Linked DNA regions of Homo sapiens: regions 1 and 3 are each linked to region 2. The links come from fine-mapping of genetic effects on gene expression. A gene starts in region 2. Each other region holds a variant in brackets. All regions are shown on one strand. Distances are between the middles of the regions.

Region 1 (2,759 bases), 24 kb after region 2:
GGTGGGGGGGGTTCTGAACTCCTGGGTCTGAGGGAGGAGGGGCTGGGGGGAGTCTGGATTCCTGGGTCTGAGGGAGGAGGGGCTCGTGGGGGCAGGCCTGCACTCCTGGGTCTGAGGGAGGAGGGGCTGGGGCTGGTCTGGACTCCTGGGTCTGAGGGAGGAGGGGCTGGGGGGAGTCTGGATTCCTGGGTCTGAGGGAGGAGGGGCTGGGGTTCTGGACTCCTGGGTCTGAGGGAGGAGGGGCTGGGGGGAGTCTGGATTCCTGGGTCTGAGGGAGGAGGGGCTGGGGGGTCTGGACTCCTGGGTCTGAGGGAGGAGGGGCTGGGGGCCTGGACTCCTGCGTTTTCTGTGTTAGCCTCCTATATGGGAGAATCAGAATTAGCGGCTGCAGAATTTCTGCAATATGACAGGGCTGTGGTGCCTGGGTTAGGAGAGACTCAGAGGGAGATGAGATAAGGAGGGGAAGGATCTGGAGGATCTTGGTGGGGAGGGAATTCTGGGAGAAAAACAGGAAGAACAGGTAGGAGGGCGTGTCCTGGGCTGGAGTGGCTCCTCGGTCAGCAGCGTCTGAGGTGTGACCACACAGAGGATCTTTGATGTTAGATGGCTGGGGCTGTGGCCAGGCTCTGAGTCACAGAGGACTCCTCCCTCATCCTACCCGCTTCCCGAGGTTCCTTTCCCTCCCTTCTTGGGGAGCAGGTGCCACCATCTTCCTCCGGCACTGTTTGCTTACTTCTGGCAGACCCCCGTGGGACCCCTGTGTCCTGTCTACTGTCATCCCAATCCCTCTGAAAACCGCCAGCCTCCCTCCTCACTTGTCACTCGTGAGATGCTCAGAAACACTTTCACACCCCTTCCCACGCTGATGAAGTTGGCCTGTTCTCTCCTCCCTCCTCCCTTCCTTCTTCCTCTCTCCATCCTTTCCTCTCTCTCCCATTTTACAGACAGGAAAAACTGAGATCTGGGAAATGGAAATATGCCCTGGAACAGGGCCGGCAGGACCAGGGCTCAAAACCAGGCACATATTTCTTTCTAGTCTCCCTTCCTGAAAGGTCACCTCTCTCCAATCTTAGATCTTCAGACTTTTTTCCCCACCTTTATTTTTCATGTTATAAAAGTGCACATTCAAGGAAAAGTACACAGAAGGAAGGAGACACCTCATGACGACCCCAGTATGCAGTCTGGGACATGTGTTTTCAGATCTGATTCTGTGAATATTTCATTTTTTATGGGTAGGGTCACATACATATATATTTTTGTCCTTCCTTTTGTCATTTAACATCCTATAGCCTAAATGTTCTTGAATAATACTGACAATTCTGTCTAAGTATCATTTTTAATAGGTTTGTAATATCATTGTGGGCTGGCCGTGGTGGCTCATGCCTGTAATCCCAGCACTTTGGGAGGCCAAGGTGGGTGGATCATCTGAGGTCAGGCGTTCAAGACCA[T/C]GCTGGCCAACATGGTGAAACCCTGTCTCTAGTAAAAATACACAAAAAATTAGCCTGGTGTGGTGGTGCACACCTGTAGTCCCAGGTACTTGGGAGGCTGAAGCACGAGAATCACTTGAACCCAGGAGGCGGAGGTTGCAGTGAGCCAAGATTGCATCACTGCATTGCAGCCCAAGCAACAGAGACTCTGTCTCAAAGAAAAAAAACATCGTTGTGCCAAGCCAGACTATTATTTAAGCCATCTGGTACTTTTGGAACATGTTTGATGGTTTCACTTCATTTCTGTGATAAATAATATCATGGTAAATTCAAGTCTTGTTCTACATTTTGGATTTTTTTTGTTTCAGTAGGTTCTTCCTAAGATTAGAGTTACTGGGTCAAAGGTGGTGAATAAGGGTCTCGGTGTACGTTGACCAAGTGTCTTCCGTAAAGACTGTACGAACGTCCAGTTCCAGTGTTTGAGAGTGCTGGTCTCACTGACTCTTCTCCAGCACTGAGGGTTTTGTGTTTCTTTATTTGTTTTGGTTTTAGGTCTTTACCAATTTGATTGGTTTATCAACAGGGCATGAGGTTGGTTTAAATATATCTTTGAGGAAAGGTAAAGTCAAATTTGACTTCATAGGTCATCGGCGTCCTCACTCCTGTGCATTTTCTGTTGGAAGCACACAGTTAATTAACTCAGTGTGGCGTTAGCGATGCTTTTTCATGGTGTCATTTATCCACTTGGTGAACTTGCACACTTGAGTGTAGACTCCTGGGTCATTGGGTTGGCCGCAAGGGAAAGTTCCCCAGGACACCAGACCTTGCAGGGTACCTCTGCACACCAACGGTCCCCCTGAGTCACCCTAGAGGGAATAGAGCCGGAGATTAACTTTGGCTTCAGATCAAAGCCCAACTCATTCTCATACATTCCTCAGTTATCGGTCTTTGTCTTGCAGATTATGGACTTCCACCATAGCCAATGAGAAGAGACTCATTGTCTCTGGGGACTAATGGGAGAGCTAGTGCTAGGGACACACTAGGTCCTTTGAAGACACTGGTTTGACCCTTGGCCAATGAGACCAATTGCAGAGAAGGGGTGGGGCTTCCAGGATCAGAGCACTCTTTATTTTCCAATGTTAAGGACCCTGCTCCAAGCTAGTGGGAGAAGGAACATCATCTCCAAGGGGTGGATGCGTGCCCTGTGGCGCAGGAAAGGGGGACACGATGGTCTCGGAGACCAGGGTGAAGACCAGTTACATAATTTACAGGACTTGGTGCAAAACGAAAATGCAGGGCCCTTTGTTCAAAAATTATTGAGAATTTCAAGAC
Region 2 (2,759 bases):
CCACCATCATTCACGAACTCACCCCAAGAACCACGCGCACAACAGCAGTAACAGCCAAGCACGCACGCAGTTCTGCAGACACGCCCATGTTGCCTCCACAGGTGCAGCTAACATACAGCTCTGTCTCCAGGTACACACGCTCCCGGGCAGCCTAGCGGGATCGCACACCCTCATCCACAGTGTCTCAGTGCCACGCACAGATGCCGTGTGTGCACAGATGTTCAGACTGCCACATACTCTTCTGCACACAGGCACACACTGCAAGTCAGTCACCTGGCACCCATCTCCCAGAGATAGCTACCCCTGCACCCTCTATCCCTCCAGGCAGAGACAGAAACTCCAGACACACAGCTGCACCATCACACATACAGTAGCATTTACACGGCCTCACACAGACACACACAGTCACATACAGTCACCCCTACACAGAGCTTCAGGTAGTCACACGGTCACAAATACGGGCATCCATAACGTCACACTCAGCCACAATCACATAATCGCCTGCAAGCAGCACACAGTCACAGCTTTCCATGGTGATGACCACTTTTGTTGCACGCAATCCCGGGACCTCAGGGACAGGAACTGCAGATACCTGCAGTCATATACAATGCCAAGTCACCACACACAGCCAAACACACAGTGAACACCCCCAGTGCTACATGCATTCACCCACACAGCTGTGGAGCCACACACAATCTTAAATGCACACACAATCACAAAACCACACACACAGCCTCAAAGGGTCAGTGCCACCTGCCGCACAGTCACCTGATATGGGAAAAGGCATCCCCCTCCCCGACACACACCGTGGCAGTCACAGGGCCACATACGATCGCACAACCACAAGTACAGACAGAGACTCACATTCACCCGGTCCCGGAGTCATGCCCAGGCTCACACAGTTCCCCAGGGGACAGGCGCTCTAGTGCCGCAGAGACAGTCCTCCCAATCCCACAACCCTCCCACCCCAGAGTTCTGGTTACCTGTGACCCCCAGAAGCAAGGCTGTGATCAGAGCACAGAGCACCCACATCCAGGGGGGTCTTGCTGTAGCCATGGCCGCTGCACCTGGATGGGGAATGTCAGAGGGTTGGGAGGCCCAGGCGATCCGGGGAGCCCTTAACCCACTTCCCCTCCCTCCCCTACCTTATTTCCCCAGGTAGAGAGGAACCACAAGGACGGGCCACCATCGGCACTGCGCTGAGACCCAGGCACTATAGAATTCAGAAGATAGGAGTCTAGCAGCCTCCAGACAGGGCAAGGAGGGGACAGAGAAAGATGTGGGTGCAGGACGCACAGACACCTCTCCTTCCCTGCCTGCTGAGCCACCCTCACCAGGTCTCACTTGCCCTGTCCCCCAGGTAGGGGGTGGGGGATTTGCTCCCAGCTCAGCCGCAGACTTCTCAGGCCTGTGCCTTCCTGGCCACTGCCTCCTCCTGGGCTCTGGGCACCGGGCCTGAGTTATAACCACCCACTGCTCCCTGGGGCACATTCCCGGGCAATGAGGTGCCTATCGGGCCTTAGCAATAGCTCCTCCTGCTCCCCCTATCTCCACCCCCAGAGCACCCCCCACCCAGTCCGGAATGTCACTCCCTACCTCCCTGGCCCGGAGAATGGGGAGGGGTCTCCGGAAGCCAGGCCAGCCCCTTCCCTGCCTCCCCCAGCCTTAAGGATCTGGCTTCTCACCAACTCTGGGTCACTATTCTTGGCGCCTGGATTGCTTGCTTTCTTCTCTGCATTTTGCTCATTCCACCACTGTCTGTTCACCCTCGATACTCCTCTTTCCATCTTTGTCTCTGGTTTTTTCTCAGAGTCTTCTTCCATCTCTCTGTGGTTCTCCCTCGGCTATCTTTCTGAGTCTCTCTCAATATCTCGTGTCTCTCTCCACCCCTCTCTCTCTTTCTATCCCTCTCGCCTCTCTGTCTCTCTGTCTCTGTCTCTCTCTCTCTGTCTTTTTCTCTGTCTGTCTCTCACTCACTCTCTCTCTCTCTCCTCCTGTCTGTCTTAGGAGCCTTGTTTTGTTCTCCTTGGGCCACAGGTGTTTCTGTCTCCCTGTTCCTCCCTGTCTTTCTATGCCTCTGTGATTCTTTCTTTTTTAAAGGTTCTGAATGATTTGTCAAATATACCTTAGAGTTCTTGGCCCATTTATTTTCCTTTATTTCACTTCTGCTCTATTTGTTGACAGCATTTTTTTTTTAGATATAACTAAGGTACAACAAACTGCTTGTTCGTTTGTTTATTTATTTATTTGAGACAGAGTCTTGCTCTGTCGCCCAGGCTGGAGGGCGGTGATGTGATCTCGGCCCACTGCAACCTCCGCCTCCAGGGTTCAAGTGACTCTCGTGCCTCAGCCTCCAGCATAGCTGGGATTACAGGTGTGCCCCACGACACCCGGCTGATTTTTTTTTTTTTTTTTTTTTTTTTAGTAAAGACAGAGTTTCACCATGTTGGCCAGGCTGGTCTCAAACTCCTGGCCTCAAGTGATTCACCCACCTCTGCCTCCCAAAGTGCTGGAATTACAGGCATGAGCCACGGTGCCTGGCCCAAACTGCATATTTAAAGGGTAGAGTCTGATGGCTTTAGGTACTTGTCACATCAGCATAGTCAAGAAGATGATCATGGCCGGGCGCGGTGGCTCACGCCTGTAATCCCAGCACTTTGGGAGGCCGAGGCGGGCGGATCACGAGGTCAGGAGATCGAGGCCATCCCGGCTAAAACGGTGAAACCCCGTCTCTACTAAAAATACAAAAAAATTAGCCG
Region 3 (2,759 bases), 530 kb after region 2:
CTTTATTTAAAGACTCAATTATGCATTCCATACATTCTTTTTTTTTTATAGCCTTTTAGCTGCCTACCGGGGCAAGTTCACCACCCAGGAAGACCTCCACAAATTCTCAGACAGCTCTTGGAAATCGAATACGCTGAACTTATAAATACATTAACACTTAGATTTTTCCCCAGTATTCCAGGACTGCTCACAGAGTTTAATAAACTCTTCCACATCTTCCAACTGAAAACCATAATCACACATCTAAAATCACTTTCACGTCTCCTGGAACTACTCCAGCGGTCTGTCAGATTTCCTAAAGCGCAGGCTACGGCACCCATCCTGTGGAAGGTGGGGTTGAGGGGTGAACAATTTCTGACCTCCATACAGCTGTTTACAGGTCAGAGGCTTGGAACCAAGACCCAGGATCCAGAGGCTGCAGCTGCTCAGGGCAGTTGCTCCCAGGCCCTGAGACTGGCTCAATCCTTCTGTGTCAGTTGGAGTCATAAAGTCCTAATCCTCTCCTCCGAGCCTCATTGTTTTCCATCTATAAAATGGATCAATGGTGGAACCAGTCACATGGGTTGTTCTGGGAATTCAACAAATGTGGGGACAGGCACAGAGCTTAGAACAGTGCCTGGCACACAGTAGGCCCCATGTGTTGGCTTTTACTCCACTAATTTTATTACAATGTAAATGGCACCATGGGCCTGGCCTCTAGTAGTTCCTTAATCATAGAAGATGCTCTTATGGTTATTGTTGTTGACACAGCTGCCTTGCCTGGGGCAGGTCTAGGGGTTAGCCCGAGGTGCACAATGGGGAACCTCCTGGCTGGGGGAGGACTTCATGAGACGGGACGCCGAGGGGTCAGAAACATAGCCTGGGCCTCCTACCCTGTCTCTACAGATGGGCCCGACTATGTGCTGCTGAGGAGCAATCCTGATGATTTCAACGGCATTGTGACAGCTGAGATCGGCTCCCAAGTGGAAATGGAGTGTATCTGCTATTCCTTCCTGGATCTCAAGTACCACTGGATCCACAATGGCTCCCTCCTGAACTTCTCAGATGCAAAGATGAACCTCTCGAGTCTTGCCTGGGAGCAGATGGGCCGTTACCGATGCACTGTGGAGAACCCCGTGACACAGCTGATCATGTACATGGACGTCAGGATCCAGGCCCCCCATGAGTGCAGCAGCTCCCCTCCAGGCTCATGCTTTGCACATCTCCCTGCCTCCATGCCCTGCTAGGCAGTGCCCACCCTCAGGAGTGCCACCTCCACTGTGCCATGACATGCTCTCAACCTCTGGGTGAAATCTCCCAGTTCTCTGAGGTCTGGGTCCAAAGCTGCCTCCTCTGTGAATCCTCTGGAGTCCTCAGATCAGAGTCAGGGTGACTCCCAGGGGGATAAGAGTAGCAGACATTGGCTGAGCACTTACTATGTGCCCGCCTTTGTTCTAACCTGTGTGACTCTCACCATTTCT[C/CTA]TGGAGTAAGTGAATGCGATTGGCATCACCTCCATTTGACAGGTGAGAAACTGAGCCCCATGGAGTTTGAGTGCTTATTCAAGGCTCTATTGCTTTGTAACCCATGGAAGAGGTGGCATTCAAGCCCAGGCAGGCATAGCCTACACCCTCAACTGCTCCCTTCAGCTGCTTCAAGATGAGGAATTAGAAAGACGCAGGGACGGGATGGGTGGACGGGGAGTAGAGATTTGGCATGGCCATGGCGTCAGAAACTTGGCTTGGGAGTGAATTTGTAAATGGGGAAAGCATCTTCTTAGCAACCATGCGTCCAATCTTCTGCATCAAGGAGAGAGACTGATGTGCTCAGGGAGACTGCAGAGGAGTGCAGCAGGTAAATGCAGGGGCTCTACAGCCCAAGGTTCTTGGTCCAAATCCCCATTCTGCTGCTGCCTATCTCCATGAACCTGGGACAAGCAGCTCCATCGTTCCGAGACTCAGTTTCCTCAACTGTAATGAAAGGATAAGAATCCCTGCAGGGAAAGGGTGCTGTGAGAATAAAATGAAACTGTGCAAGAAAGTACAGAAGACATTACAGGATGTGGTCTCCAGACTTTACTTCAGCCACACTACCTCCTAAGCACCTACTATGCACCAGACACGATGTGTGCATGCAGCCCTCCAAGTCATCGATTCACATTTTTCTCTTCCCCTGGACTACAAGATTCAGGAGGGCAGAAGCTGGGGAAGCTTTTTTTTTTTTTTTAACAGAGTCTCGCTCTGTTGCCCAGGCTGGATGCAGTGGTGCAATCTCTGCTCACTGCAACCTGCACCTCCCGGACTCAAGTGATTCTCCTGCCTCAGCCTCTTGAGTAGCTGGGATTACAGGCACACGCCACTGTGCCCAGCTAATTTTTGTATTTTTACAAAATAGAGTAGAGATGGGGTTTCACCATGTTGCCCAGGCTGGTCTTGAACTCTTGACCTCAGGTGATCCACCTTGGGCGAGCTTTCTGTTTTCCATTTGTCCTCAGTGCTTGGCACAGTGTGTAGCACATAGTTGGTGCTCAGTGAACATTTATGCAATGAGTTAATGACCCTGTGTCACACACCCCCCTTCCAGTCACTGTCTCTCCCCTTATGAGGGTTTATTCTTCTCTATTCACTTATGGTTGCTTGCAGTGTGAGACATCTCTTTGCTTAATTGTCCACTGTCCACTTCCCAGCTAGAATGTCAGGCCCATGGGTACAGGGAGTTTGTTTTGTTGGCTGCTGAATCCCTCGTACCTGGAACAGTGCTTTGCTGATAATAGATGTTGACAA

What was found. PIP is the estimated chance that this variant, and not a neighbour inherited with it, causes the effect.
Region 1: its variant is fine-mapped to the expression of KLK5 in lung (TOPMed, PIP above 0.99).
Region 3: its variant is fine-mapped to the expression of KLK5 in visceral fat (GTEx, PIP 0.97).

The regions. Positions count from the first base shown.
Region 1 is chr19:50,975,399-50,978,157 of GRCh38, forward strand. It overlaps KLK7 (kallikrein related peptidase 7), which reads right to left. Exons shown (of 6, transcript NM_005046.4): 6 at 1,070-2,293. The coding sequence ends at 2,138. Among named protein-coding and RNA genes, the nearest start is that of KLK7, 7.1 kb to the right of the region's middle. The variant T/C (reference allele first, on the strand shown) is at 1,449.
Region 2 is chr19:50,951,602-50,954,360 of GRCh38, forward strand. KLK5 (kallikrein related peptidase 5) reads right to left here and starts at 1,437. Exons shown (of 6, transcript NM_012427.5): 1 at 1,146-1,437; 2 at 984-1,067. The coding sequence starts at 1,056. The region is part of intron 1 of LOC105372442 (a long non-coding RNA gene); the gene reads left to right.
Region 3 is chr19:51,482,132-51,484,890 of GRCh38, forward strand. CEACAM18 (CEA cell adhesion molecule 18) reads left to right here. Exons shown (of 6, transcript NM_001405061.1): 4 at 886-1,165. Among named protein-coding and RNA genes, the nearest start is that of CEACAM18, 5.0 kb to the left of the region's middle. The variant C/CTA (reference allele first, on the strand shown) is at 1,461.